Linked DNA regions of Homo sapiens. The protein of the gene in region 4 purifies or fractionates together with the protein of the main gene of each other region. This does not show direct contact. Each region holds a gene or a part of one and is shown on either strand. Other genes may lie near its edges.

Evidence for each region.
Region 1: the proteins of CPSF3 (region 4) and DDX23 fractionate together in Homo sapiens (co-fractionation; one large-scale study listed by BioGRID). This does not show direct contact.
Region 2: the proteins of CPSF3 (region 4) and CSTF2 purify together in Homo sapiens (affinity purification with mass spectrometry; 3 studies listed by BioGRID and IntAct, with this or other methods). This does not show direct contact.
Region 3: the proteins of CPSF3 (region 4) and POLR1E fractionate together in Homo sapiens (co-fractionation; one large-scale study listed by BioGRID). This does not show direct contact.
Region 5: the proteins of CPSF3 (region 4) and PKN3 purify together in Homo sapiens (affinity purification with mass spectrometry; one large-scale study listed by BioGRID and IntAct). This does not show direct contact.
Region 6: the proteins of CPSF3 (region 4) and CSTF3 purify together in Homo sapiens (affinity purification with mass spectrometry; one large-scale study listed by BioGRID and IntAct). This does not show direct contact.
Region 7: the proteins of CPSF3 (region 4) and LRRC41 purify together in Homo sapiens (affinity purification with mass spectrometry; one large-scale study listed by BioGRID and IntAct). This does not show direct contact.

What each region holds. Positions count from the first base shown.
Region 1 is NC_000012.12:48,845,311-48,849,587, forward strand, and holds part of DDX23 (probable ATP-dependent RNA helicase DDX23), read right to left. Parts: intron 473-4,277; coding exon 264-472; intron 1-263. UniProt on the Homo sapiens protein: Involved in pre-mRNA splicing and its phosphorylated form (by SRPK2) is required for spliceosomal B complex formation.
Region 2 is NC_000023.11:100,823,035-100,827,311, reverse strand, and holds part of CSTF2 (cleavage stimulation factor subunit 2), read right to left. Parts: intron 4,021-4,277; coding exon 3,884-4,020; intron 3,427-3,883; coding exon 3,307-3,426; intron 3,193-3,306; coding exon 3,055-3,192; intron 679-3,054; coding exon 555-678; intron 1-554. UniProt on the Homo sapiens protein: One of the multiple factors required for polyadenylation and 3'-end cleavage of mammalian pre-mRNAs. This subunit is directly involved in the binding to pre-mRNAs.
Region 3 is NC_000009.12:37,488,171-37,492,447, reverse strand, and holds part of POLR1E (DNA-directed RNA polymerase I subunit RPA49), read right to left. Parts: intron 3,134-4,277; coding exon 3,048-3,133; intron 167-3,047; coding exon of another isoform or gene 73-166; intron 1-72. UniProt on the Homo sapiens protein: Component of RNA polymerase I (Pol I), a DNA-dependent RNA polymerase which synthesizes ribosomal RNA precursors using the four ribonucleoside triphosphates as substrates.
Region 4 is NC_000002.12:9,468,225-9,471,475, forward strand, and holds part of CPSF3 (cleavage and polyadenylation specificity factor subunit 3), read left to right. Parts: intron 1-3,118; coding exon 3,119-3,215; intron 3,216-3,251. UniProt on the Homo sapiens protein: Component of the cleavage and polyadenylation specificity factor (CPSF) complex that plays a key role in pre-mRNA 3'-end formation, recognizing the AAUAAA signal sequence and interacting with poly(A) polymerase and other factors to bring about cleavage and poly(A) addition.
Region 5 is NC_000009.12:128,715,689-128,719,965, reverse strand, and holds part of PKN3 (serine/threonine-protein kinase N3), read right to left. Parts: intron 3,220-4,277; coding exon 3,043-3,219; intron 1,642-3,042; coding exon 1,579-1,641; intron 1,418-1,578; coding exon 1,341-1,417; intron 281-1,340; coding exon 138-280; intron 57-137; coding exon 1-56.
Region 6 is NC_000011.10:33,154,466-33,158,742, forward strand, and holds part of CSTF3 (cleavage stimulation factor subunit 3), read right to left. Parts: intron 1-4,277. UniProt on the Homo sapiens protein: One of the multiple factors required for polyadenylation and 3'-end cleavage of mammalian pre-mRNAs.
Region 7 is NC_000001.11:46,279,289-46,283,565, reverse strand, and holds part of LRRC41 (leucine-rich repeat-containing protein 41), read left to right. Parts: intron 1-2,180; coding exon 2,181-2,441; intron 2,442-3,005; coding exon 3,006-3,170; intron 3,171-3,275; coding exon 3,276-3,374; intron 3,375-3,951; coding exon 3,952-4,074; coding exon of another isoform or gene 4,075-4,124; exon of another isoform or gene 4,125-4,277. UniProt on the Homo sapiens protein: Probable substrate recognition component of an ECS (Elongin BC-CUL2/5-SOCS-box protein) E3 ubiquitin ligase complex which mediates the ubiquitination and subsequent proteasomal degradation of target proteins.

The DNA.
Region 1 (4,277 bases), on a different chromosome or scaffold from region 4:
CATGGTGTCGGGCGCCTGTAGTCCCAGCTACGCACTCAGGAGGCAGAGGCAGGAGAATGGCGTGAACCTGCGAGGCGGAGCTTGCAGTGAGCTGAGATCGCACCACTGCACTCCAGTCTGGGTAACAAACAGAGCGAGACTCTGTCTCAAAAAATAAAAATAAAAAGTAGATGCCTAATACTGGAGGCATCAGAAGAACCAAGAAGGAAGAAATCTGAAACGTACTCTCCCTTCCCATGTAATAACATACAAAGTTACTTTACCTTTCTGCAGATTTGGAACGGGAACGAGAGCGAGAACGGCTGCCTCCTCGACGTCTATCCCTTGAACGATGCCGCTTTCTATCTTTAGATGGGGAAGACTTCCGGTCCCGGTCTCTATCCCGCTCTCTGTCAGGAGTCCGTGATCGCTTCCTTTCCTCCTTGGAAGGTGATGCATCACGGTCCTTTTTGTCAGCCAGCTCTCCTGCCATCTGTAATGAGTAGGAAGAGTACTTACAATGTACTAGGCACTGCTCTAAACTGCTTATATATAATTCAATTACCCTCAAAACAACCCTATGAGGTGGATATATTAGTATGTCTACCGTACAGATGAGAACGGTGGAGCTCAGGTATATAAAGGAACTTGTCTGAGGGCAGACAGGTAGTGGCAGAGTTGCAGGCAGTCTGGCTCCACAGGCCATCGTTACTCACTATATTGTCTCCCTGTAATTCCTTTCAGAGTCTCACTCTGTCACCCAGGCTGGAGTGCAGTGGTGCAATCATAGGTCACTGCAGCTTCAACTTCCTGGGCTCAAGCCATCCTCCTGCCTTGCCTAGCTAATTTATTTTTTTTATAGACAGGGTCTCACTATGCTGCCCAGGCTGGTCTTAAATTCCTGACCTCAAGCAATCCTCCTGCCTCAGCCTCTAAAAGGCTGAGATTACAGGCGTGAGCCACAGTGCCTGGTCGATTCCTTTTTATATATTCATTTCTAAATATGTACAGTGAATATACCATGTTTTTGTAATTAGACTACAAAAGAGTATTAAAAGAAGTGTTAGTGTATGAACAGTGTACCAACTATTTCTAGAAACATCCTATATTGCTTACTTTGAAGTTTATTAGGTCTGCCAACCCACTAGGATCAGTTAGCACTCATACGTCTGAGAGAGATAAATTTTCTTGAGCTCATAAAGAAAGCTCAATGGAGAAAAAAGTTTAACTTTGAGATCTGGATTACGTTATAATTAGCACCACAAGGAAAACCTGAATTTAAGTGGAGAAACACACTTTTACTCAGATTAAAAGAAATGTACCTCTAATTATGCAATGGGAAGAACTTGGTGAAGGGTACACAGAACCTCTATACACATTTTTTAACTTCCTGTGAAACTATAATTATTTCAAAGATATATATTTTAAATACCCAAAACTAGAGGTTGCAGAAGTCCTGATTGACATTCCCTATTCAGATTTTCACAACCTTGGTCATCTGCATAACCCAGTTTTGTGAAAGGTTTCAGCAGGAATTTTTTCTGTCTCCCTCCTACCTGGGAGACACCGAACACCACTCCCACACTGTCAACTCTTCTTTGGGCTATGAACTCTAGTTCAGCCAGGAGCTAAAACTGCAGCAAGCCTGAATCTGCAACCACCTCATCATCATCCCAAAGACTTGGGATACATTTCTCGCAACTTATTTTATCCCCAAATGGTTCAGCTCGAATGGTTCCTTAAGCTTTAGCTTACAAGCCCCTTTCTCATGCCATTCCCTGCCATATATCCTTAAGAAAGATTGTATAAAGATGAGAAAAGAAAAATGAACAAGAAGCACTTTCAAAAGGTGAGGACAACCCATTTTATCTCACAATCACCTGAGAAATGACTGATTGTTCTGTATCAGTACATCATGGCTATCACACAGAAATACCTATGTCTTGGGCTGGGCATGGTGGCTCACCGTGTAATCCTAGCACTTTTGGAGGCCAAAGCGGGCAGATCATGAGGTCAGGAGATTGAGACCATCCTGGCCAACACGGTGAAACCCCATCTCTACTAAAAATACAAAAATTAGCCAGGCATGGTGGCACGTGCCTGTAGTCCCAGCTACTCAGGAGGCTGACGCAGGAGAATCACTTGAACCCAGGAGGCGGAGGTTGCAGTGAGCCAAGATCATACCACTGCACTCCAGCCTGGCAGCAGAGCGTGATCCGTTTCAAAAAAAAAAAAAAAGAAAGAAATACCTATGTCTTGACTGGGTGTGGTGGCTCATGCCTGTAATCTCAGCACTTTGGGAGGCTGAGGTGGGTGGATCGCTTGTCCAGGAGTTCGAGACCAACCTGGGCAATATGGCAAAAACCCATCTCTACTAAAAATATAAAAAATTAGCCACGCATGGTGGTACACGCTACCCAGGAGGCTGAGGTGGAAGGACTGCTTGAGCCCGGGAGGCAGAGGCTGCAGTAAGCCGAGATTGTGCCACTGCACCCCAGTCTGGGTGACAGGGCAAAACCCTGTCACACACCAAAAAATAAAAAATAAAAAAAACACTTACAGCCCTAAGAAAACAATCCCAAAGGAAGGCTATTTTCTCTGTACAGCATCCTGGATTTCATTCATTCTTTCAACAAATATTCACCGAGCACCTACAAGGTGCCAGAAATTGTTGTAGGTAACGGAGACAAAGCAGTAAAGAAAACAAAGTCTCATGCTGGGCGTGGTGGCTCACGCCTATAATCCCAGCACTTTGGGAGGCTGAGGCGGGCAGATCAAGAGGTCAGGAGATCAAGACCATCCTGGCTAACAGGGTGAAACCCCGTCTCCACTAAAAATACAAAAAAATTAGCCGGGCGTGGTGGTGGGCGCCTGTAGTCCCACCTACTCGGGAGGCTGAGGCAGGAGAATGGCGTGAACCCGGGAGGCAGAGCTTGCAGTGAGCCGAGATCATGCCACTGCACTCCAGCCTGGGTGACAGAGTGAGACTCCGTCTCAAAAACAAAACAAAACAAAAAACAAAAAAAAAAAGAAAACAAAGTCTCCTACTTCATAAAGCTTAAATTCTAGTGTAGCGGAAAGGATTTTAAATAGTAATGAATGCTAATGAAGAAAATAAAACAGTGATATGATGGGTAGGGGTATAACAAGAGATAGATGGCTCAGGGAAGAAGTTTTAGTTGACATTTAAGCTGAGACTTGAATGATGGGAAAGAGGGCCATGAAAAGATCAGGGTAAAAAACCCTTGTTAGATACAAGAAATGTGAACTAGCTTAGCATGTTTGTCAGGTTTGTTTTGTTGTTGTTGTTGTTGAGACAGGGTCTCACCCTCTCACGCAAGATGGAGGGCAGTGGCACAATCACGGCACACTGCAGCCTTGACTTCCCAGGCTCAAGCGATCCTCCTGCCTAGGCCTCCCAAGTAGCTGGGACTATAGGCGCATGCCACCACACCTGACTAATTTTTTTTTTTTTTTTTTGAGATGGAGTCTTGCTCTGTCGCCCAGGCTGGAGTGCAATGGCATGATCTTGGCTCACTACAACCTCCACCTCCCAGGTTCAAGTGATTCTCCTGCCTCAGCCTCCTGAGTAGTTGGGATTACAGGCGCGTGCCACACCACGCCTGGCTAATTTTTGTATTTTTAGTAGAGGCGGGGTTTCACCATGTTGGCCAGGCTGGTCTCAAACTCCTGACCTCAGGTGATCCGCCCTGAGTGCCCAAAGTGCTGGGATAACAAGCATGAGCCACCATGCCCGGCCCCAACTAATTCTTAAAATTTTTATTAGAGACAAGGTCTCAATTTGTTGCCCAGGCTAGTCTTGAACTCCTGGGCTCAAGGGATCCTTCGGCCTCAGCCTCCCAAAGTGCTGGTATTACAGGTGTGAGCCCAACTACACGTTTGTCAGTTAAAAACATATTTGTTTGGCCAGGCCTGGTGGCTCATGCCTGTAGTACCAGCACCTTGGGAGGCCAAGGCGGGAGGATCACTTAAGCCCAGGAGTTCGAGACCAGCCAGGGTAATATAGCAAGACTTCCCGTCTATTTTGAACAATAAAATTTTACATTTATAAACAGTTAAAAATCAGCCGGAGGCCAGGAGCAGTGGCTCACGCCTGTAATCCCAGCACTTTGGGAGGCTGAGATAGGCAGATCATGAGGTCAGGAGTTCGAGACCAGCCTGGCCAACAGGGTGAAACCCCGTCTCTACTAAAAATACAAAAATTAGCCAGGCGTGATGTCAGGCATCTGTAATCCCAGATACTCGGAAGGCTGAGGCAGAACTGCTTGAACCCAGGA
Region 2 (4,277 bases), on a different chromosome or scaffold from region 4:
AAATGTACATAGCTTTTAAATTTCTCTTTTTCCCTTTTGTTGTTTGTTCTGATTATGTTTGTTAAAATACAATTTTATGTCAGTTTAATATGCTATAACAAATGTGACCTTGTATTTTTTTGTCTGTTTTCTTCATGAGCTTTTGAACCTAATCTGACAGTTCATTCATATTTAGCAGAGTAACAACTACATTAGTTTTTATTCCTTCCATCTTACTCTACATTTATTATTACTTATTTTACACTGTCTCTTACTTTTTTCCTCTTCTCTATTTTTGCTGGCTTGATTTTGTTTCCACTCATTCCATTTTCCCCCTTGTTAACTTGGAAGTTTTACTATGCTCTTTCACTTTACTGTCCCTTTCCCTGTTCTTATAATTAGACATACAGGATTTAACGTAAGAAATCTACTATTTCCTCCACCTAAGATATATACTTTCTAGCTGTGTATTAATTTTACCTAAGGATCCCATTATCATATTTGGCTGCACTGCAACAGTGGCTATGACAAAACTTTAGCAAGTACTGAAATGGTGAAGACTAAATGAAACTTACCTCCAGGAGCTAAGGAACCAGGGCCAGGTCCTGTGACAGCAGCTGGCATTTGCCCTGGTGCTGGAACTCCACCCTGCATAGAAGCTTGCATCAGAGGAGGTGCGCCATTGACATGCATTCCACCCTGACCAAGCAAAAAAAACAGAGTATGTATATGCCTCTGTGGATACTCAATATACTAAGTCTACGACCTTAAAAGTCCTCTTCAAATGAACAGCCCCAAATACACTACTAAACATCCTTTTTGTATGGCATGTCTTATGCAGCATTAGATTTGTCACACACTTTAAACTCCACAGAAGCAATATACGTCATGAGCCTGGTTATATGGAACACGGTTAAGATGGAACATATTCTCAATGTAGAGATTGACAAGTCTTATCTGTGTGGCAAGGCAGCACATAACACCTACTGTTAACTTCATGATTGGGGCTGCCAATAAGAGTAAAAAAAAAAAAAAAAAAAAGCCCTAAACCCAAGAAACATAAAAGGAGACTGGGACTCTTTTAAAAAAAACAACTGCTGGTAGTCCACATTTTTAAAATTAAATTTTTTTTTTAATTTAACCAATCTTTTCTCACTCCTGTCCTTAGATATAATTCTGGTTTTGGGGGAATGTGAAATATATTTTTTTAAATGCTACATTAAAACTCGTTGAGAAAAAGAGAATGTCATCTTTTCATCTGTGCATTCCCCAAAAAACTGAGTAGTCCCTTGAATTAGAAACAGCTCAATAAATAAAGAATAAAAGCCAAGTTATATAAAAAAAATCACATATACGTTTAAGGAACACAAAACTCTACAAAAGAAAAGGAAGAGCTGTATAGGAAAGTAGTTAAGAGAAAACTGGCTGTGAGGTCAGATAAAACCAGGTTCAGAAATAGATCTGCCACTTATAATTGTGTCAATTTTTGGACCAGCTAACCTCTCTGGGCCTTAGCTTTTTTTTTCTATCTCTGAAAATGTATTTATTTATTTAGAGCAGGGGTTGGCAAACTATGACCCATGGGCCAAATCGGGCTCACTGCCTGGTTTTATAAACAAACTTTTAACGGAACACAACCACACACACTTGTTCACTTATTGCCTATGGCTGATTTCATACTACCATGGCAGAGTAGCTGTGGCAGATCCTGTGACTTGCAAAGCCAAAAATATTTACTGTCTGATCATTTACAGAAAAATGTTTGCTGGTCCCTGCCCTGTACCTCTGCCAACCTGAGAGATGAAAAATGGTAGCTTATTGTAGTTTCTATTTACATTATCTTATAACATTACATATATAAATGATAATTTATTACATTATCTTATTTTGAAGTTGAATAAATTTTTATATATTTATATTTCTCCTTTTGTGAAATATTTATGTCTATTTCCCATTTTTCTACTGGGTTATTGGAAATTTTCTTACTAATTTATAGGAGGCCTTTTAAAATTTATTATGAAAAATTACAGATATACAAATCATATAGAAAATAAAATAGCCACCCAGCTTAGGAAATAAATAAGTAAATAAAATAAACCAATGGCCTGTACGGTCTTCCCCAATTGCATCCTGTGCTCTCTTCTCCTTTGATGACCACTAAGACGTCTTCTTAATGTTTCAAAATTTTATATGAATCATTACATACTCAATATATTATTTTGCAACTCATTCCACATATTTTGGGGATTTATGCAGAAACATATATCCTACATTTCGGGAATGCATCCATATTCACTTAGTTTCATGTCCGTATGTCACTGTTTTGGAGTTGTGTTGATATTATGTATCCTAGTTCATCTTAACTGCTGTATGGAATTATGTTTTTCAAAGTCATTCATGTTGATACGTGTAGTTTATTTAACTGTTGTACAGTATTTCACTGGATGAATGTACCACACATTTTCTCCATTCTTCCACTGACGTACATTTAGGACATTTCCAATTTTTCACTCTAAGGCAATAAACATTCTTGTGAATGACTATGGGCTCTTTATTAGTCTGTTTTCCATCACATGTGTGGTAAATACTTTTTCTCAATTTGTCATGTCTTTGATACTTATTTTTTTCTTTATATAGAAATTTTTTAGTTTTCAAATGTATCAATTTTTTATGGCTTTAAGGTTTTGTGTCATGCTTTGAAAGCAAGCTTTACTTTTTTCATCAGTAAGAATGGAGATAATAAGAGTGCCAACCTCATACAATTGCTTTGAGGATTAAATGAGATAATGCATATGGAATAACGAAGTGCCAACCACAGTGCCAGGCATGCACATACACACAAAGTTAGCTTATAAGAAAAGGGCATACGGGAAGGATCTCTTTGTTTTACAAACTTGGAATCGAATCTATATTCATTCAGATGTCATGTGCTCTGCAACCTGGAAATTGCTTTTATGCCTGGAAATTGAAATTATCATCTCTGGTTCCTGACCATTCTTCTTTCAATATATTCTCCTAAAAAGAAAATGACATTCTAAGACAGATACAAAAAAATGTTAAGGGATAAAGCCCTACCAAAGACTGGGCCTGAGGGGCCTGAGGATTCTGCTGGTTCATTGACACATTGGATCCTGAGCCAGGCCCAGCACCATGGACTGGCTGAGGGTTGCCTGCAATCAGCGTTGGGATATTTGTCTGGCGATGCAGAATTTTCTAAAAAGTGAAAAGACAAACCTATGAGCTGTCTGTTTAACAAAGCAATCAGGTAGTTCCTATCCCATTCAAGGTTTACCCGACCATTTCCATAAAAGAACCAGAAGCACTCACCAGGGCAATTTCCGGATCCACAATTCTCATCACTACCTGTGCTTGCAGCAAAGCATAAGCCAGTTGAGGGTTCTGAAGTAACATGTTCCGTGCCTCCTGGGGACTATTCTGGACACAGAGCTGAGAAGATAAGCAGATTCAGGTTTAATACTTATGACTTAGAAACTGATAGTGATTTAGAGCCATTCCCCTCTGAGAAATGTAATATTCAAGAGGCTCTTTATCATTAGTTTTTGCATGGCACAAAAAAACCTTGGTCATGGCAGGCAAGAGAAGAAAGAGGCATTTCAAATACTGTGATATTATCATTTAGGAAAAAAGCCAAATTTTAATATCTACATCTGACATCTATGGGCCACAAAACTCCAGCTGGATTGTTTGGATAGCTGTGTTTGTGTACAAAAATAGAAAGCTCTTTGTACAAAATGTAAAATATACTGTGTACATACAGAATATTGAAGGTGCAAGAAATGGTGGTCTACAGACAATTTCTATTTGAGCTCAGGGAACTAATTCAAGTAACTCCTTGAAAACCTGATGTGATTTGCTTTATTCATAACCTAATGCCTCCTCCCACCTTCATTTGTTTCATCAGCTCAAACATCTGCTCTGGTGGAAGGCTGGCAACTGCTTTGCTAATGGACTCAGGGGCATCCTCAGGACTGATGGTCTCTCCATAAGGTGACTCAATGACAGGGGCACCAGTGCCAAGGCCTAATCAAGAAGAAAGTACAAGAAAGTTAGGGAGGCAAAACAAAAAGCTAAATCATTTCAAATATCTACTTTTCAGGGCTGCTGTAAGAACCAGCTGATAATTTTAGATTCTCCAGAGCTGAGAAATAAATGATGTGAAAGCCTCTTGTTTCTGTGGAGGAAAGTGAGAGTGTATTTTCTGTTCTCAGAGGAAAGCTGGGGATCATGATCACATGGAAGGACAATGTTAACCTAAGTTAGAGAACTAGGCACATTGA
Region 3 (4,277 bases), on a different chromosome or scaffold from region 4:
AAGCGGTCATCCAGCCCAACCTCTTCATTTTAGAAATTAAAAAACAGAAGGCCCACAGATGAAATTACTTGCCCCAGGTCAGTTCACCAGGTAGTGGCAGAGACAGGATTAGAAAACAAGTCCTTGGCTCTTTCCAGAAAATAATTTTGCTTTCTTGGTGAAAGACCTAAAAGCAGGCATAAACATGAGGTATGTGGTACTTACCGATGCTCTCCAATCATCTACAAAGTACTCAAATAAGGGCAGTATAACTTAGTACACAACAGTACAAGCTCTGGAGTGGCCTTGCCTGTTATCTCAGCCATCACCCCTGATAAGGTCATCTAACCTCTGTGCCAGTTTCATCACTGGTAAAAAAAGAACAACAGTACTTACTCCAGAAGGTTGGTATATGCATGGAAAGTGCTTAGAACAGTGACTAGCATATAGTAAGGACTTAAATGTTATCTCTGTGTGTGTGCTACCTAGAATAAACTCATATTTACAAACTTCTTACATATAACAACAAAAATATGTTTAATCAACACGTTAAATTACAATTTTCCTTGCCTCCCTGGATTTTACAAGAACAGTTGGAAGATGATTTAAATATAGTTATATATGTTTGCAAAGCAGGGGGACACCTAGGAAATTCACAGATGGGTGTCCGGACTCAAGAGACCTTTAAAATTACGTGTAAAATTTGGCTAGGCACGGTGGCTCACACCTGTAATACTAGCACTTTGAGAGACCAAGGTGGGTGAATCACTTGAGGCCACGAGTTTGAGACCAGCCTGGCCAACATGGTGAAACCCCATCTCTACTAAAAATACAAAAATTAGCCGAGTGTGGTAGCGCACACCTATAACCCCAGCTACTCAAGAGGCTGAGGCAGGAAAATCGCTAGAACCCGGGAGGCAGAGTCTTCTGTGAGCCCAGATTGCACCACTACACTCCAGCCTGGGTGACAAAGCGAGACTGGGTCTCAAAAAAAAAAAAAAATTATGTATAAAATCCCATATTAAAAAAAATCCCATATATATGTATTTGTGTATCATATATGTTTCTCAGAAGTAGGTCCAGGTCCTTAGCAGATTCTCAAAAGGGATGGAAGCACTGCTTTGAGAGAATAAAACTGGAACTAATGCCTCTGAGGTATCAGGCAGATTCACAATGCTCCCAATGTTTCTTTCTTGTCTATCGCCCTATCCTGCCATGGTTCCCAGTATTTAAGGGCATCACTAAGGATTCAAGTTCTGAGATTTAAGGAACAGAAGCCCCTTGAGTGTGACCCTTTTATTTATTATTTTGGAAGATCTCACTCTAGCCCTGAGCATTCTAAGATGACAAAGCAGAGAAACAATGTAAATTCTTCCACTGGATTAGGGAAAAAAAATAGATCTTCCTCAAATTAGTGTAGAGACTTGTCCTCAACGTGAAAGTTACTATACAACTTAATAAGCAATTTCCTTTGTCTACCAGAAATTCTAAAACCTCTTTACCCCAACTATAACAGTTAAGAATTAAGAAAGAACCCTTTCGGCCAGAACTGCCATCTTGCAGTAATTCATCAAAATGACAAACACAAAGGGAAAGAGGAGAGGCACCCAATATATGTTCTCTAGACCTTTTAGAAAACATGGAGTTGTTCCTTTGGCCACATATATGTGAATCTATAAGAAAGGTGATATCGTAGACATCAAGGGAATGGGTACTGTTCAAAAAGGAATGCCCCTCAAGTGTTACCATGGCTAAACTGGAAGCGTCTACAGTTTAGCATGCTGCTGGCATTGTTGTAAACAAACAAGGGCAAGATTCTTGCCAAGAGAATTAGTGTGCGTATTGAGCACATTAAGCACTCTAAGAGCCGAGAAAGCTTCATGAAACGGGTGAAGAAAGATGATTAGAAAAAGACAGAAGCAAAAGAGAAAGGTACCTGGGTTCAACTGAAGCGCCAGCCTGCTCCACCCAGAGAAGCACACTTGGTGAGAACCAATGGGAAGCAGCCTGAGCTGCTGGAACCTATTCCCTATGAATTCATGGCGTGACAGGTGTTTAAAAAATGAAAGACCTCTGGACTGTAAAAATGTTTCTCTTCATTGAGTAGAAGTGTGGTGTTCTCTCCCCCAAAGAAATATTTAAGGCAAATTTTAATTATGTCCTAGTTCATTATGTAATGTCTTTACTCTTCAAATTTAATGTATTTCTTGCTGAAAGACGTGAGGTAGCTTATTGTGCAACAAACTCCTCGATTGTTTAGAAAATGGCCAGGTATTACGTATGAAATATTTGTACTGGTTTGAAGATAGTCCCTTGAAATGATCAAGGAAGAAATAAAGTAATTTACAAAAATAAAAAATAAAAATAAAAAGAATGAAGGAAGTTCTTTTATGGAAAAGATTTTATATCAGACATGTCCTCTAATATTCTGCTCTGATCATTGCTCAGATTGCTTTTATGAACCTCTGACCTCAAGTCTCTAAACACTATGGGGACAGGATCTGTGTCTGTCTTGCTTACTGCCACATCCACAGCCCCAGCTTGGTGCCTGGTACATTAGGTTATCAATAAGTGTGTGCTGAATAAAAAACTCTAGGCCGGGCGCAGTGGCTAGCGCCTGTAATCCTAGCACTTTGGGAGGCCGAGGCAGGTGGATCACCTGAGGTCAAGAGTTTGAGACCAGCCTGGCCAACATGGTAAAACGCTGTCTCTATTAAAAATACAAAAATTAGCCGGGTGTGGTGATGTGCACCTGTAATCCCAGCTACTCGGGAGGCTGAGGTAGGAGAATCACTTGAACCCGGGAGGTGGAAGTTGCAGCGAGCCAATATCACACCACTGCACTCTAGCCTGGGTGACAGAGTGGGACTGCATCTCAAAAAAAACAAAAAACAAAAAACAGTGTGTATATAAAAAACCATTTTCTCAACACAGACAAAGCAGAAAAAACAGAATAAATAAATTAAAATAACTATAAAATGTGTTTTATAAATCTAAAACTCAAGCCAACTCATCCAGCAAACCCAAACTATGCATTATTTCTGTCAGCTTTCATGACTGGGACCTACCTGAAAATAGTGGCTGCATGTTGAACAATTCAGCATCATATACTTCCATTTGGCCAGAGGTCTTGTTCAAAATTCCCACAAAGTGCCTGAATAAAGAAGAAATAATACAAATAACAATGGATTATTCAAAAGCATTATTTGTACAGCTTTCTTTTTTTTTTTTTTGAGACAGAGTCTTGCTGTCACCCAGGCTGGAGTGGAGTGGCATGATCTCGGCTCACTGCAACCTCCACCTCCCGGGTTCAAGCAATTCTCCTGTCTCAGCCTGCTGAGTAGCTGGGATTACAGGCGCACGCCACCATCCCCGGCTAATTTTTGCATTTTTAATAAAGATGGGTTTCACCATGTTGTCCAGGCTGGTCTCGAACTCCTGACCTCAGGTGATCTGACCCTATCAGCCTCCCAAAGTGCTGGGATTACAGGCGTGAGCCACTGCACCTGGCCCTGTTTCCTGTTCAAAAGTTCTCAACCTTCTCTCTGCCCACACACCTGAGGAATGCATCATCTACTCATGGGTAACAATAATCTCCCCTACCCCTACCCCACAGCAATTCTCTGCATAGAGAGGGAATAGGAAAGGATAGGATGGGATGGGAGGATATGAGGTGGTTCTGGGAAAAAAAAAAAAGCTACTAGGTGATTCTGATAGTTGATCACATTTGGGCTCACTGCGGTAGTGTAATGGAAAACTCTTTTGGGGTGTACGAACCTAGAATTACACTACAATTTATGGCACAACAGTTTTATGGAGGCAAAATCAAGTAAACGGGGAGGAGACCAATTGGAACTAGGGCATCTCTGAGAGGGGAGAGTGCAGGGTTAATAGTTCTCAGCACCTATACACCCATCTGACCTCTCCTCTATTGGAGTATGGTCCACCGGGGCTCAGAAAGGGCCTAGTTTGTAGTTCATTGTTGGGTACCATCACAGGGCCCTGTCTGCATCATGCCAGCCCCCGAGAGTGATACAGTTCAGGCTGGACAATCTTCACTGTACAGAGGGGGAGGCTGGGGGTCAGTGATGCGCAGAGTTACCCAGCCACTCAGTCAATCAGCAGCACAGCTGGATGGGAATCCCAGGCTCCTCTTTCCCAGTCCAGAGCCTTCAACACTACCAAGTTCTTTACCTGTCGTTAGTTCCCAGGTAAACTTCACGCAAGCTTTGACCTACTAGTCACACATTCCAAATTAATGGAGAGACCTGCCTTTTGGAATAAGACAGCTATAAATA
Region 4 (3,251 bases):
TATTTTATTTTATTTCTATTTTTGGGAGATAGAGTCTTGCTCCATTGCCCAGACTGGAATACAGTGGCATGATCTTGGCTCATTGCAGCCTTGACTCCCAGGCTCGAGCAATCCGCCTCAGCCTCCCAAGTAGCTGGGATCACAGGCTCGCAACACCATGCCCAGCTAATTTTATTTTTCTGGAGAGACAGGGACTTCCTATGTTGCCCAGGCTGGTCTCAAATTCCTGGGCTCAAGGGATCCTCCTGCCTTGGCTTCCCAAAATGCTGGAATTACAGATGTGAGCCCTTGCCCCATGAAACGGTTTAACAAAGTAAGGTGGCCTGCTAGTTTAGAAGGCTTTTATGCTAACATTTCTGTTCCTTCCTTTCTTTCCCCAAAATTCTACACTGACCTTTTTTTTTTTTTTTTTTTTTTTTTGAGACGGAGTCTCACTCTGTCGCCCAGGCTGGAGTGCAGTGGCACAATCTCAGCTCACTGCAACCTCCACCTCTCGGGTTCAAGCGATTCTCCTGCCTCAACCTCCCGAGCAAGTGGGACTATAGGCGCATGCCCACCACACCCAGCTAATTTTTGTATTTTTAGTAGGGACAGGGTTTCACCATATTGGCCAGGCTGGTCACGAACTCCTGACCTCATGAGCCACCTGCCTTGGTCTCCCAAAGTGCTGGGATTAGAGGTGTGAACCCCCGTGCCCGGCCCACTAAAGCAGCAGTTTAGTGGCTTTAAAAAAAAATGATAGACTTTAAATGATGACTTTGTTTATAGAAGTTGTCATACATCTTCAAAACAGTATTCTCTGTGTTGTCATTTTGATTTTAAAGAGCATTCCTCATACAAAACCAGCCAACAGTGCAGGCACAGTGATTACCATGGCCGTTGAAAAGGCCAGAGATTTTACTGGTTCCCACCCCTGGAGCCTCTGGTTCTCTTAACTCATTTTGCAGAGGGCTCAAGTCTGCCAGCGTTGAAGTCTGAGTATCTTAATCATTTTTAGATCCTTCACCCCTTTGGCAGTCAGGTAAGGCTGTGGGGCGGGGGCAGGGGACACACATATATGCAGTTTTACCTTTGATTTCAAGGAGGTTAGACAACCCCCTCCCCACAGGCTATCCTGGGACCCCCGGTTAAACAGCCCTATTGTAGAAGGTGGGTGTTGCTGACCAGGGACTTGACTACAATAGTTCTGTTGGCGGCCCTGTTCCCTGGGGCTCTACAAGAATAGAAAACCCGTGTGGCCCTGGACTGGCCCCGCTCTCCCACGTGCTGCAGTCGGGGTGCAGAATGGAAGTTCACATTGCTGTGGCTGGTCCTCAGGAGCCGTGGGGAGGGCAGTCTGCGGGAGGCTGCGGCCCTTCCACTGGACTTTCACTCTGGCCTTCTTCCCTGTCCTCCTGACACCACTCCTCCCGCCTCCCCTCCCTCTCCCTCACCTCCCACAAACACACCAGAACTATTCAACTCTGAGGAACAGGAGTATGAGACAGCTTCCATTCGGCCAGGAATGGGAGGTTCCCATGTCCTTAAACTTCAAAGCCAATCGTACCCTTAAAAATGCAGCTATTTCCCCAGTTGTTTAAACACTTAGGATTAGATAGGAGTAGATGTATTGGTTTCTTCAGAGAAGCCAACAGTGGATCACATGAAAATGGAACCTTTTTTCCTATCCTTTTGAATACATTTCTGTGTTTAAAATATAATTTTTTTGGCTGGGTGTGGTGACCCACACCTGTAATCCCAGCACTTTGGGAAGCCAAGGCAGGTGGATCACTTGAGGTTAGGGGTTCGAGACCAGCCTGGCCAACATGGCAAAACCCCATCCAAAATACCCCTACTAAAAATACAAAAATGAGCCAGGTGTGGTGGTGGGTGCTTGTAATCCCAACTACTCAGGAGGCTGAGGGAGGAGAATTGCTTAAACCAGGAGGCAGAGGTTGCAGTGGGCCGAGATCGGGACACTGCACTCCAGCCTGGGCAACAAGCAAGACTCCGTCTCAAAATAAATAAATAAAATAAAATATAATCTTTTCCTTTGTGCTAGGGTCCCACCTAAGTTTATTCACACATATGATGAGCAGTAACTGCCTGAAGATGCAAGGAGTTGATTCCCACTCCCCACTTCCCCCGCTTAATACAGTGTTGTCAGTGCTTAACTGTCCTAGGCTGACCATGGTCCATGGGTTGTTTAGAGTCACTGCCTGCCTTTCTTACCTGCATTCAGCCTGCTGGTGGACTGCTGTTTCCTAACACCTCTGTACCAATGGGGACGATGTTGAAATTAACCATCAAAACTGTTTCTCTCGATGACAGAGGCAATGTCTTAGTGCCTTCTTTATCCCCAGCTACTAGCACAGAAGGAATCTGCCACACAGAAGATGCTCAATAAATACCAAGTTTAATTAAAGTAGGAGTGCACAGCTAGTGGGCTTGGGAGCCATTTAAACCTAGATACCTGGATTTGAATGCCGGCTCAGCTGTTTACTAGCTGTGAGGCTTTAAGCAAATCACTTAACTTCTGTGTCTTGTTTTCTTCACATGTAAAAGGGGATCCTTACTAAAATTATAGGTTAAGATAATGTATATAAACCACCTAGCATGATGCCTGCTGAATAGATCATTCTTGAATAAAGCTGTGTATTTTCCCTGTTTTATAAACTTAATAAGCTGTATCAAGGCAAATAAGAAGCTTGTCTCAAAAGTAAATACAGGCTGGGCATGGTGACTCCTGCCTGTAATCCCAACACTTTGGGAGGCCAAGGCAGGTGGATCACTTGAGGCTAGGAGTTCAAGACCAGCCTGGCCAACATGGTGAAACCCTGACTCTACTAAAAATACAAAAATTAGCTGGCTGTGGTGGTGCACACCTGTAATCCCAGCTACTAGGGAGGCTGAGGCAGGAGAATCACTTGAATCCGGGAGGCGGAGGTTGTAGTGAGCCAAGATTGTGCCACTGCGCTCCAGCCTGGGCCACAGAGCAAGACTCCATCTCAAAAAAAAAAAGAAAAAAAGTAAATACAGTATTCTGCTTTAGAACTAGGACCTATCTTCAGTTTTATTTTTTCCTCAAATATATAAAGCCGGGCATTTTCACTAATCCTGCATTTCTGCTTATTTTCAGGGACATATTTGGAGAAGACTGTGTAAGTGTAAAGGATGACTCTATTCTTAGCGTCACAGTGGACGGGAAAACTGCCAACCTTAACTTGGAGACACGGGTATGTAGCTGCTCTTTCCTACGTTTCAAGACATTT
Region 5 (4,277 bases), on a different chromosome or scaffold from region 4:
TCCATGTTGACGATGCAGTCAAACACCTCTTCCTCTGTGTCCCCTGGGAACGGGCACTGTGGAGATGGGGGCTCAGCAGGATGCACGGGCCACCCCACCCCCACCCAGAGGCCCAGGAAACAGGCTCCAGCACTCACCTCACCCACCAGCATCTCGTAGAGCAGCACACCCAGCCCCCACCAGTCCACAGCCCGTGTGTATGCCTCCTGGGTCAGCACCTCGGGAGCCAGGAACTCCGGGGTGCCACAGAAGGTGCTAGTCCGGTCCCCGAAGCCGATCCCTGCAAACCAACAGGCACACCAATAGCTGCTTGGTGTGGCCTATTCACAATAACTTCAATAGCCAAGCCTTATGATGCCAGGGAGCTGAGCCTGTGCCAAGCCCTGCCCTGTACCCAAGGAAGTGGGAATGGTTATGACGCCATTTGACTGCATGCAGAGCCAAGCTCACAGGCTAAGGTCACAGAAGGCAGAACTCGGCTGGGTGCGGTGGCTCACACCTGTAATCCCAGCACTTTGGGAGGCCGAGGTGGGCAGATCATGAGGTCAGGAGTTCGAGACCAGCCTGGCCAACATGGTGAAACCCCGTCTCTACTAAAAATACAAAAAATAAGCTGGGTGTGGTGGCATGTGCCTGTAATCGCAGGTACTCGGGAGGCTGAGGCAGGAGAATCTCTTGAACCTTGGAGGCAGAGGTTGCAGTGAGCCGAGATTGCGCCATTGCACTCCAGCCTGGGCAACAGGGCAAGACTCCATCTCAAAAAAAAAAGAAGCCGGGCGCAGTGGCTCACGCCTGTAATCCCAGCACTTTGGGCGGCCAAGGTGGGTGGATCATGAGGTCAGGAGATCGAGACCATCCTCGCTAACACAGTGAAACCCCGTCTCTACTAAAAAAATACAAAAATTAGCCAGGTGTGGTGGTGCTCGCTTGTAGTCCCAGCTACTTGGGCTGCTGAGGCAAGAGAATCGCTTGAACCCAGTAGGTGGAGGCTGCAGTGAGCCGAGACTGCACCACTGCATTGCATCCTGGGCGGCACAGCAAGACTCCGTCTCAAAAAAAAAAACAAACCAAAAAAAAAACAGAAGGCAGAACTCAGTCTCCTCTCCCATCCCTGACCACAGGCTCTCCCTTGGGCCAGGTGCAGGCTGGGGCTACGAGCCTCTAGGACTAGGAAGAAAGGGCCAGTGTGCCCAGCTGTCCCCTGGAATGAGGTCTGGGGTGGTGGAACCAGGGCATCCGCAGGTGAGGAGATTTCCTGGGACATGCCATGTGCCCATCATCCTATTGGCCAGGGTGGGTAAACAAGGCTGGAGATATGGATCCCAATGGGCGGCCCCCACCTTCCTTGCAGAGTCCAAAGTCTGCGATCTTCAGGAATCCCTGGGCATCCAGCAGAAGGTTATCCAACTTCAGGTCCCTGAGGGCAAGGGTGCAGATCAAAGGGACTGAGTGGGGCTTAGACCCAGGGAACAGTAACGGCCCCTGGAGCAGCCCAGGCAGGCGGAGGCAGCATCTGTCCTTACCCACTCCACCCCCACCCCCACCCCTACCCCCGTGCATCCCTGGGACAAAAGTCACCTGTAAATGATCTTCTTCTCGTGTAAGAACTGCAGCCCCAGGACAACACAAGCCACGTAGAAGCTGCAGGGGTGGTTATGGGAGAACTCAGGCCCAAGACACACACCAGGGAGGCAGGGCAGGGAGGCACCAGGATGGCCATAGCGGGGGGATCCCGGATGTCCCGGCCAGAGTCAGAGATGAGTGAGACTGGGACAAGCATCATGCTGAGGGTGGGGGTGCTCCAATAGTCCCAAGGTCGCCCCAAGGTTGCGTGCATTTCCAGCTCACCCTTCATGGGCCCTTAAATGGTGCCAGGGACCAAGTGTTGGTCCCTGCAGTGGATATTCATCATGCCTATTTTTTTTTTTTTTGAGACGGAGTCTCACTCTGTCACCCAGGCTGCAGTGCAGCGGTGCGATCTCGGCTCACTGCAACCTCCACCTCCTGGGTTCAAGCAATTCTCCTGCCTCAGCCTCCCAAGTAGCTGAGACTACAGGCACGCGCCACCACGCCCAGCTAATTTTTTTTTTTTTTTTTTTTTTTTAGTTTTTATAGAGATAGGGTTTCACCATGTTGGCCAGGATGGTCTTGATCTCTTGACCTCATGATCCACACGCCTCAGCCTCCCAAAGTGTGGGGATTACAGGCATGAACCAACGTGCCCGGCCTTTTTTTTTTTTTTTTTAGATGGAGTCTCACTCTGTCGCCAGACCGAAGTGGCGGGATCTCGGCTCACTCCAACCTCCGCCTCCTGGGTTCAAGCGATTCTCCTGCCTTAGCCTCTCAAGTAGCTAGGATTACAGGCGTGTGCCACCATGCCTAGCTAATTTTTGTATTTTTAGTAGAGACAAGATTTTACCATGTTGGCCAGGTCACGAACTCCTGACCTCAGGTGATCCACCCGCCTCAGCCTCCAAAGTGCTGGGATTACAGGTGCCCGGCCAATCATGCCTATTTTTCAAATAAAGATCTGAGACTCACCAGGTGTGGTGGCTCACGCCTGTAATCTCAGCACTTTGGAAGGCCGAGGTGGGCGGATCACTTGAGGTCAGGAGTTAGAGACCAACCTGACCAACATGGAGAAACCTCGTCTCTACTAAAAATACAAAATTAGACAGGAGTGGTGGTGCATGCCTGTAATCCCAGCTACTCAGGAGGCTGAGGCAGGAGAATGGCTTGAACCAGGGAGGCGGAGGTTGTGGTGAGCCGAGATCATGCCATTGCACTCCAGCCTGGGCAATAAGAGCCAGACTCTGTCTCACAAAAAAAAAAAAAAAAAAAAAAAAAAGAAACCTAATGCACAGCTTCATAAGCTGATACCCAGGATCACAAATGCTGTCAGTTGGTGCCAGGATGTAAACCAAGGCCTCTGACTCCTGCTCCCCTGCTGTTGGGCACTTGGAGAAAGCAGTATGTAGAGAGTGGGTGTAGGGAACCAGGCAAAGTTTGCTGGAAGAGGCAGGCAGGAGGGATGGAACCCACCGGGCCTGGGGCTCGGGGAAGACATCCTCGTGGATCTGCATCATGAGGTCACCACCAGGCACAAACTCAGTCACAAAGCAGGCATGGCTGGAGGTCTGGAAGCAGGCAAGGAGGGAGAGCAGGAAAGGGTGCCCTGTGCAGCCCACAGCCTCCAGGATCCGCTTCTCGCAGTACAGGCTACAGGAGAGAGCAAGAGTATTAGAGGGAAGGAAAACTTTCCCTGGGCTGTGCCCTGTGCCCTGCACAACACCCCTGGCTCACTGGGCCCTCAGCCAAAGTGCCAGGCAAGTAGACTGATGGTTTCTTTTCATTTTTTTTTTTTTTTTGAGACACAGTCTTGCTCTGTCGCCTGGGCTGGAGTGCTGTGGTGTGATCTCAGCTCATTGCAACCTCTGCCTCCCGGGTTCAAGAGATTTTTGTGCCTCAGCCTCCCGAGTAGCTGGGATTATAGGAGTGCGCCACCACGCCCAGCTAATTTTTGTATTTTTAGTAGACGCAGGGTTTCGCTGTGTTGCCCAGGCTGGTCTCGAACTCTTGGCCTCAAGTTATCCACCTGCTTCGGCCTTCCAGAATGCTGGGATTACAAGTGTGAGCCAGTGCGCCCAGCCTTTTTTTTTTTTTTTTTTGAGACAGGGTCTCACTTTCTTGCCCAGGCTGGAGTGATGTGGTGCGATCTCGGCTCACTGCAGCCTCCGCCACTGAGGTTCAAGTGATCCTCCCACCACAGCTTCACGAGTAGCTGGGTGTGCACCACCACGCCCAGCTAATTTTTGTATTTTTTGTAGAGGCGGGTTTCACCATGTTGTCCAGGCTGGCCTCGAACTCCTGGGCTCAAGCAATCCTCCCACCTTGGCCTCCTGAAGTGCTGGGATTACAGGCATGAGCCACTGTGCCCAGCCTCCCCCTCCTTTTTTTTTTTTTAATTAGTTTTTTTAGATGAGGTCTCATTCTGTTGCCCAGGCTGGAGATCTCTGCTAACTATAACCTCTACCTCCTGGGCTTAAGCAATCCTCTCACCTCACCCTCCCAAGTAGCTGGGACTAAAGGCACATGCCACCATGTCTGGCTATTTTTTATAGATGGGGTTTCACCATGTGATTCAGATTGGTCTTGAACTCCTGGACTCAAGTGATCCGCCTGCCTTGGCCTCCCAAAGTGCTGGGGTTACATGCATGAGTTACCACGCCTGGCCATAGAGTGATGGTTTCTATATGTCAGGGGCTCACAAGGAGCTC
Region 6 (4,277 bases), on a different chromosome or scaffold from region 4:
CCGGAGTAGCACTCCGTAAGACTTTCTTTTTTTTTTTTTTTTTTTTTTTGAGATGAAGTCTCACTCTGTCACCTAGGCTGGAGTGCAGTGGCTGTACCTTGGCTCACTGCAACCTCCGACTCCCGGGTTCAAGTGATTATCCTGCCTCAGCCTCCCAAGTAGCTGGGATTACAGGTATGCACCACCACACTCAGCTAATTTTTGTATTTTTAGTAGAGACGGAGTTTCACCATACTAGCCAGGCTGGTCTCAAACTCCTGACCAAGTGATCCGCCAGCCTCAGCCTCCCGAAGTGCTGGGATTACAGACAGGCGTGAGCCACGGTGCCGTGCTGAGACTTTCATAGAGGAGTAACCTAACTGATTCCATTCATATGCCCAGATAATAAAGAACTATATGTGACAGGTGTCACAATGAGACCGGATATTAGGACCAGATGTCAGCTTAGTTCTGTGTTCCTTTACCAATGCAACCAAACCCTACTTCATGTTTGTTGTGAATGAAACTGAACATGTATCCTACAATACAAAACTAATCCCTCCAAATCATCCATAGATTAAAAATCTAAACATACAAACAACTCAAAAACTTAAAAAAAAAAAGATCTTGGGCCGGGCATGGTGGCTCACACCTGTAATCCCAGCGCTTTGGAAGGCCAAGGCGGGCGGATCATGAGGTCAGGAGATCAAGACCATCCTGGCTAACACAGTGAAACCCCATCTCTATTAAAAATATAAAAAATTAGCTGGGCGTGAGGGCGTGGTGGCGGGCACCTATAGTCCCCGCTACTAGGGAGGCTGAGGTAGGAGAATAGCGTGAACCCAGGAAGCGGAGCTTGCAGCGAGCCGTGATTGCGCCACTGTGCTCCAGCCTGGGCGAAAGTGCAAGACTCTGTCTCGAAAAAATAAAAATAAAAAAATTAAAAAAAAAAAAAAGATCTTGGCTTAACATATTAGTTCAAATAATTATATTTACCATTATCTGCTTAGTAAACTTGCATATTCATCCCCTAGGAAACAAATAGCTACAAAATATAAATTAAAATCTTAACCGTTTGGAACTTAAAAGATGAGACTTCTTTCAAATATGAATAATCCAGATTTAATACACTAAATAAACTAAGTCAAACATTAGAAAAACATTAATTAGGACACACAGAAGCTTTGCCCTTCTGATTTTATTCAATATTTACTATGTATCCTAAGTTGTCCATTAATCTAAAGATAGTTTAAACAACTGCCAACTCAAATCCCTTTTTTAGCCCAATTCTCACACCATTACCAACTGTCCAACAAAACAAAACAAAAAGACTCAAATTCACAGGTAGGTCCTATCTAAAGAGAAAGATTCAGAGACATGGTAGAAAAGCTTAAAATCACCGTCACCAAATCGAAGATTTAAAAAAAAAAGCTTAAAATCATGAATTGGTATGGGTAATTGTCCAATAGGTAAAAACACCCAAATACAGATTTTGCCCTTCTGAAGGTCTATCTGGGATGTAAATGCCTACATTCCCTGAAATAATGTTGAAGGAATGCAGTATCACCTAACACAGTACCTTTCTGCTGTATCTCTAAGAAAAACCCAATTCTCATTCTTTAAGCACAGAGCAACTTCTCTTAGGAACAACTGTCCCCAAACAGAATATTTGATAATGCTCCAGTTTCCTAAGAAATATCAACAATAAAGATCAAATCAATTTGCCTGCCCAAAACTGTTACACCAAACAAGCATCACTAAAAATAGGAGGCAGAAAACTAGGAAGGGCTGTTACAGAAAGATTTTGGAAAAAATAAATCCAAAAAAACACATTGTCCAACACACATAGTTGGCTCTTTCTCTGCCTCTTCTAACCCCTACACATATATGCACCTTGACTAAAATTGGCGATACTGTTACTTCTAAACAGCTTAAGTACTAATGTTTACCTAACGAAATAAACCAGGTTTCAGGTTTCAATGCTGTGGGTGTTTCAACTTTTTCTTTCCTTATTAATAATAAGTATATAATAGGACACATACTCTTCATTATTTTCTAAATCTTCCCAAAATTATTTTTCACTAAAAACACGTATTTATGAGCCTAAATGCTCCTTTGTTAAGAACTACCAGCAATTAATTTGCGCTTCTTAGAATCATGTAGCTTTTCCAAGCTGAGGATCATTTGGCTTGTATTTTAGGCCTTCCAAATTCTAGGATAAGTTATACATTATTTAAAAGGTGAAATATGGCTGGACTCACACCTGTAATCCAACAGTTTGGAAGGCTGAGGCAGGAGGATCACTTAAGTCCAGGAGTTCAAGACCAGCCTGGGAAACACAGTGAGACCTCGTCTCTACCTAAATAGTAAATAAATAATTTTTTTTAAAAGATGCAAACTTAATCCATTCATTTACTGAATACCTTTAAGCATCAAAATATTATTTCTTAGGTCTTTAAGACATAAAGATGAATAACATCATCTCTTCAACTAAAGAAGTTCAAAACCCAATGGAAAATGTCTAAATAACAGCATATTAAATGCCTTAAGAGTAGTGCACAAGGTTAAATAGACCTAAGAATGAGATCAAAAGTTGAATCAGGCATTAAAAAAAACAAACACCACAGGCTGGGCGCAGTGGCTCACGCCTGTAATCCCAGCACTTTGGGAGGCTGAGGCAGGCAGATCACTTGAGGTCAGGAGTTCAAGACCAGCCTGGTCAACATGGTGAAACACCATTTCTACTAAAAATACAAAAAAATTAGCCGGGCATTGTGGCGTGTGCTTGTAATCCCAGCTACTCAAGAGGCTGAGGCAGGAGAATTGCTTGAACCTGGGAGGCGGAGGTTGCAGTGAGCCGAGACCGTGCCACTGCACTCCAGCCTGGGCAACAGAGCAAGACTCCATCTCAAAAAAACAAAAAACAAACACAAAAAAACAAAACCATGAAATAAATAATACAGCCATAATTCCACACAGAAATCATATGTTTGTTAGGGGGGTAAACCTATATGCAAATAGTTTTTTCACCATTAAACTGGCAAAAACAATAAGCAAGGAGCTTCAGAAGAGATCCTTGAACACTATAAGGTAATTCCAATAGCTCTCTACATGCAAAATTGAACTTCCCTACTAGAGTTGAAAAAAAAATCACAGCAATAAACCTTTAGCAGTGATTTTGCTTGTCTGCAATAATTTCCCTCTGTTAGGGGGCACAAATCACAAATCTTAGCACCAAGAGAAAAATGACTATCCATATATTTTAGTAATAAATTTAAGATAGTATCAGGTTTATTCTACAAACTTGAACTTCAATGCTACTAAAAGGCTAAATCTACACCTGCATCTTGTAGGACTCTTTGTCCACCCCATCCCTTGGCATTTTTCCAAAGCAAATCCATGATTCAATGGTTTTAATTTTTTTCTTATTATTCTTTAGTCTCATTGAGTTTATTTTTCTCATCCATGATTTCAGGTTATTTTGGATACTCTCTTTTCCTCCAGATTTTCAATATTGTCTTAAATATCAAGCAAGGTACAGCTCATTCATATTTTCCATCCTTAAGGTGTTATTTAATGGTTATTTTAGTTGAAGCTGAATACAGTATCTAGGATTTGCTTCGAAGTAATGGGGGTGAGAGAAGCAAATGAAGTCATGGAGGAAACAAGATTAGCCATAAATTGAAGCTCTATGACAGGTACTTCATATATTATACTGTTTTTCTTACATGTTTGAAATGTATTATTAAAAAGTTAAAGAAAAGGCTATATGAAGATGACTTCCTTGTTGATAATCAGATGTCTAAATTGCCTTTCAGACTTAAGGAAAAGATATAAGAACCACCAAAAAGGTTTGGACAAGTTGAGTGTGCAAAAGAAAAATGGCTATCACTGATACTAACACACTAAGAGAAATCCATGAATCCATAGCGATACTTAATCTTTAGGAAGAAAAAAAGTCTTTTTTGCAGAAAGTATGAGCCAGTAAACAGACACAGACCAACAGAATTGTGGGTTTTAAAAACAAAACAAAACCACCATTTGCTACTTCCAATGTAAGAGCTGATTTAGTCAAGATTTATCAATTGATAACTAGGTATAAGGTGATTTTAAAGAAAACGGTTATCAACTCACAGATTATTAACTGCAAAGGGGAACATGACCCTTAACAATGAGATCACCCTAAACCAAGTGATCAAACTTAACCATCCTAACAGAACCCAGCAGAAGTACCTGCTAATGTAATGATATAATGTTAAGTATTCTATCCAAAAATACTTAACCCAAATATCAAGGCT
Region 7 (4,277 bases), on a different chromosome or scaffold from region 4:
CTCTTGAACTTCCAGACCCATTTATCCAGCTAGTAGACATGACAACTTCATAACCCACAATACCCCACCCAACTCATTACATCCAACTTGAATGCATTTTTATATTTTTAGTAAGGACAGGGTTTCCCCATATAGGCCGGGCTGGTCTCGAACTCTTGGCCTCAAGTGATCCACCAACCTCGGCCTCCTACAGTGCTGAGATTATAGTCATGAGCCATTAAGCCCAGCCCTATCTTTACAATTTGTTAAATACATTTATTTCTCTATCTCCACATCCTTAATTCAAGCTACCATTACCCACTACCTGAACTAATTTCAGTAGTTCCTCCGGACTCCTTACTCTTGCCATACAAATCCATTATCTGCACTGCAGCCCAAGCATCCTTTGAAAAATGCAGTCTTGATTCTTTAAAAAAATCAGTCAAAAATGACCCTGTCATTCATTTATGCAAACACCCTTCAATGGCTTAATTTTACTTAGTGGTCATTCATATTCTTACTCCTGGTTATCTCTATAGTTGTATCTTTTTTTTTTTTTTTTTTGACAGGGAGTCTCTGTTGTCACCCAGGCTGGAGTGCAATGGTGCAATCTTGGCTTACTGCAACCTCCGCCTCTCGGGTCCAAGCAATTCTACTGACTCAGTAGCTGGGATTACAGGCACATGCCACCATGCCCAGCTAATTTTTGTATTTTTAGTAGAGACGGGGTTTCACTATGTTGGCCAGGCTGGTCTTGGGCTCCCGACCTCAGGTGATCTGCCTACCTCAGCCTCCCAAAGTGCTGGGATTATATAGGTGTGAGCCACCACACCTGGCCTATAGTTGTATCTTGAATGCTTCCCCCCTTCACACTCTCACACCAGCCATTATGAAATTTTTTTGTTCTCCTTCAGGCCTCTACATATGCCAAGTTGCCTCTGCCACAATCATTCTTCCTAAATTTTAGCCTGTCCCCTTTATGTTCTTTAGGACTTAGCTGGAGTGCCTTTACTGATGTAAGCTGGACTAGGTACTCATCCTTTGTAATTTCATAGTACTTTATTCCCCCAGTTCCCATCGCATTATCAAGCTATGTAAGAAAAAAAAGCAATGTGCTGCTCACTAGTGTCTAGCAAAAAACTTGATATTTAGTAGGCACTGGGTAGTTGAATGAATGAACAGGAGCCTGCATAGTCCAAGGAATTATTTGCCTGTGGCATTAAGCAACCAACCTTCCTGGATCCTAGTCCATGCTGTGGGATTTGGTTATCTTTTCCTGCCCCATTCCCACCCATTGATTCTTTTAAGTATCCCAGTTGGGTCACTGTCACTCTCCATAGTTTTTAGGTGCTCCCTATTGCGTCTAGGTTAAACCATCCCTTTGCCTTTCCATAATGTGGCCTCCAGTGCCCTGCCCTCTAGAGCTGTTTCCTGAGCCTCATGTAGCCAAACAAGCAAGCGTCTCATTCATGCCTTGCACTCTCCTAGCTGTGATTTTTTTTTTTTTTTTGAGACAGTCTTGCTTTTTCACCTAAGCCGGAGTGCAGTGGCGTGATCTCAGCTCACTGCAACCTCCGTCTCCTGGGTTCAAGTGATTCTCCTGCCTCAGCCTCCCGAGTAGCTGGGACTACAGGCATGTGCCACCCAGCCCAGCTAATTTCTGTATTTTTAGTAGAGACAGGGTTTCACCATGTTGGCCAGGCTGGTCTGGAACTCCTGGCCTCAAGTGATCTGCCCACCTTGGCCTCCCAAAGTGCTGGGATTACAGGCGTGAGCCACCGCTCCCGGCTAGCTGGGACTCTTGACTATGTCTTCTCCCTCTATCCAAAACTTCCTTCCTTCAAGGCCAGTTTCTTCAGAAAACTACTCAGAACCCAGAAATCCAGAGAACTGCTACTGTCTGTGCCTGTCATTCAGCTAGTAGCCACATGCTGCCTCACCATATTGTATCTTCTCAATTTTGTGACTCTGCCCTGACTGGTGCTTCTTGTGGGCATAACCCAAAACAGCAGACCTCAGTTTGCTGGTTACCTAAGGAAAAAGCAAGACATGGATGAGTAGTTAAGACAAATGGGTTTAAATAAGCTGAGCCAAAGCCCAAGAGATTTGCTAGTAACCAAAAGTATTTGGAGTTGTATTTGAATATATTACCCCTGCTGACACTCCCACATGGTTCTGACTTAATCTCTTTCTTGCCATAGGCCTGGGCTCTAACATCTTCCGCCTGCTAGACAGCCTGCGGGCCCTGTCAGGCCAGGCTGGATGTCGCCTCCGTGCCCTGCATCTCAGTGACCTGTTCTCACCACTGCCCATCCTGGAGCTGACACGTGCTATCGTGCGAGCACTGCCCCTGCTACGGGTCCTCTCTATTCGTGTTGACCACCCAAGCCAGCGGGACAACCCTGGTGTGCCAGGGAATGCAGGGCCCCCTAGCCACATAATAGGCGATGAGGAGATACCAGGTGAAGCACTGTGTGTGTGTTTGTGTGTGTGCACGCACGTGTATCCCCACACAAAGGTGCAGATGCATTCGTATGGGGAAAGGGGAAGGACCTCTTCTATCACTCATTCCTGGCTTATCTGGAACCTATCCCCCCTTTAGAGCCTACCACTAAGATACTCTTGAGCTAGACAGGGCCTAAACCACCATAAGACCAGCAGAGAGTGACCAAGGCAGCTTGGTCTCCAGAAAAGGAAAAGAACTGATCTTTAGACTGGATTAGTTCCCCTGCTGTATGTTCCCTTAGTTCTTGTATGTCTCCTATCCCACCACTCTGCATACTTTATTTGCTTGTGTCTGGGTAGCCTGTCTTCCTGGTCTAAAATTTCTACAAGGGCAAGGACTAAATCTCATATTTAGTGCTCAATTCCTAGAATCTAGCACAGTGCTGACATATGGTAGGCACTCAACGACAAGTGAATGAATAAATAATTTTTTAGATGAATCCCTTAAGAACAGGATGGGACCTGCTATGGGAGTGAGGTAGAGATGGCCAGCTGGAATCTTCTTTCCCCACCATATCCAGAAAACTGCCTGGAGCAGTTGGAGATGGGATTTCCACGGGGAGCCCAGCCAGCCCCACTGCTGTGCTCCGTTCTGAAGGCCTCGGGTTCTCTGCAGCAGCTGTCCCTGGATAGTGCCACCTTTGCCTCTCCCCAGGATTTTGGGCTTGTTTTGCAAACACTCAAAGGTAGGACCCAGCCAGAATGGTGAAGGGAGAGGAGTAGGTGGGGACCTAGCACTGTTCTCTAGGAAAGCTAAGGTCCATGGTCCATGGTCTCTGCCTCCTATCCAGAGTACAACCTAGCCCTGAAAAGACTGAGCTTCCATGACATGAATCTCGCTGACTGTCAGAGCGAGGTGCTCTTTTTGCTACAGAATCTGACTCTGCAAGGTAAGTTCCTTATTCAGAACCTGGACATTTCCTGGGTCTTCACTATGGTTCTGCCATAATCTGAGTGAGCAAACCACTGTTCCTTTCTTGGCCTTGTGTCCTCAGCTATAAAATGGATATAGAACCTGCATGATTTTCCTTCTAAAAGCCCCAACCTCAATTCCTCCTCTACTAAACATGAGAAATCGCTCTTTTAGAGTGCTTCACCCAAAAGTTGCTCTTACCTTTCAGAGGTGGACAAAATGGTGGTGGTGGGGCAAAATAAATGTACTGTGCCAGGCTCCCCTCATAGACTTTTCTCTGATCCCCACCCCCGCATAGAGGGTGGCCAGTGTTAGGGAAAGAAGGAAGTGAATGGAGAATTGTCCATGCAGAGAACCTTCTTATAGGGAACATTTAGGTTCAGTCTTTAGTTTGGATTCTGATTTAGTTCCAGCCTTGCTTGGAGTCTAGACAAATTCCTTCCTCTTTTTGGGCCTCTATAATGTTAATACCCCTTGCTAGGGCCAACTGGGGCAGGAGGGGCAGCACCAGTCCTAATGCAGCCATCAGAATTTACTATAATTTTTCTTGACAGAGATTACCTTCTCCTTCTGCCGTCTGTTTGAGAAGCGCCCAGCCCAATTTCTGCCTGAGATGGTTGCTGCTATGAAGGGCAACTCCACACTGAAGGGCCTCCGGCTGCCAGGGAACCGCCTGGGTGGGGGCCAGACCCTGGGGAGGGAGAGGGGAAAGGAGCTAGGCCTTTGACCTAAAAACTCACTGGATAAAGGCAAAGACCTCTCCACTGGGAACGTGGGAGTTGGAATACAGATATTTCTGTGCTGGGGCTTCAGGAACCAGCAGGGCTGGTTCTGCCAGCCATAGTTGGGTTGGGATACCCTTGTCCCCTGTTCTTGGGTG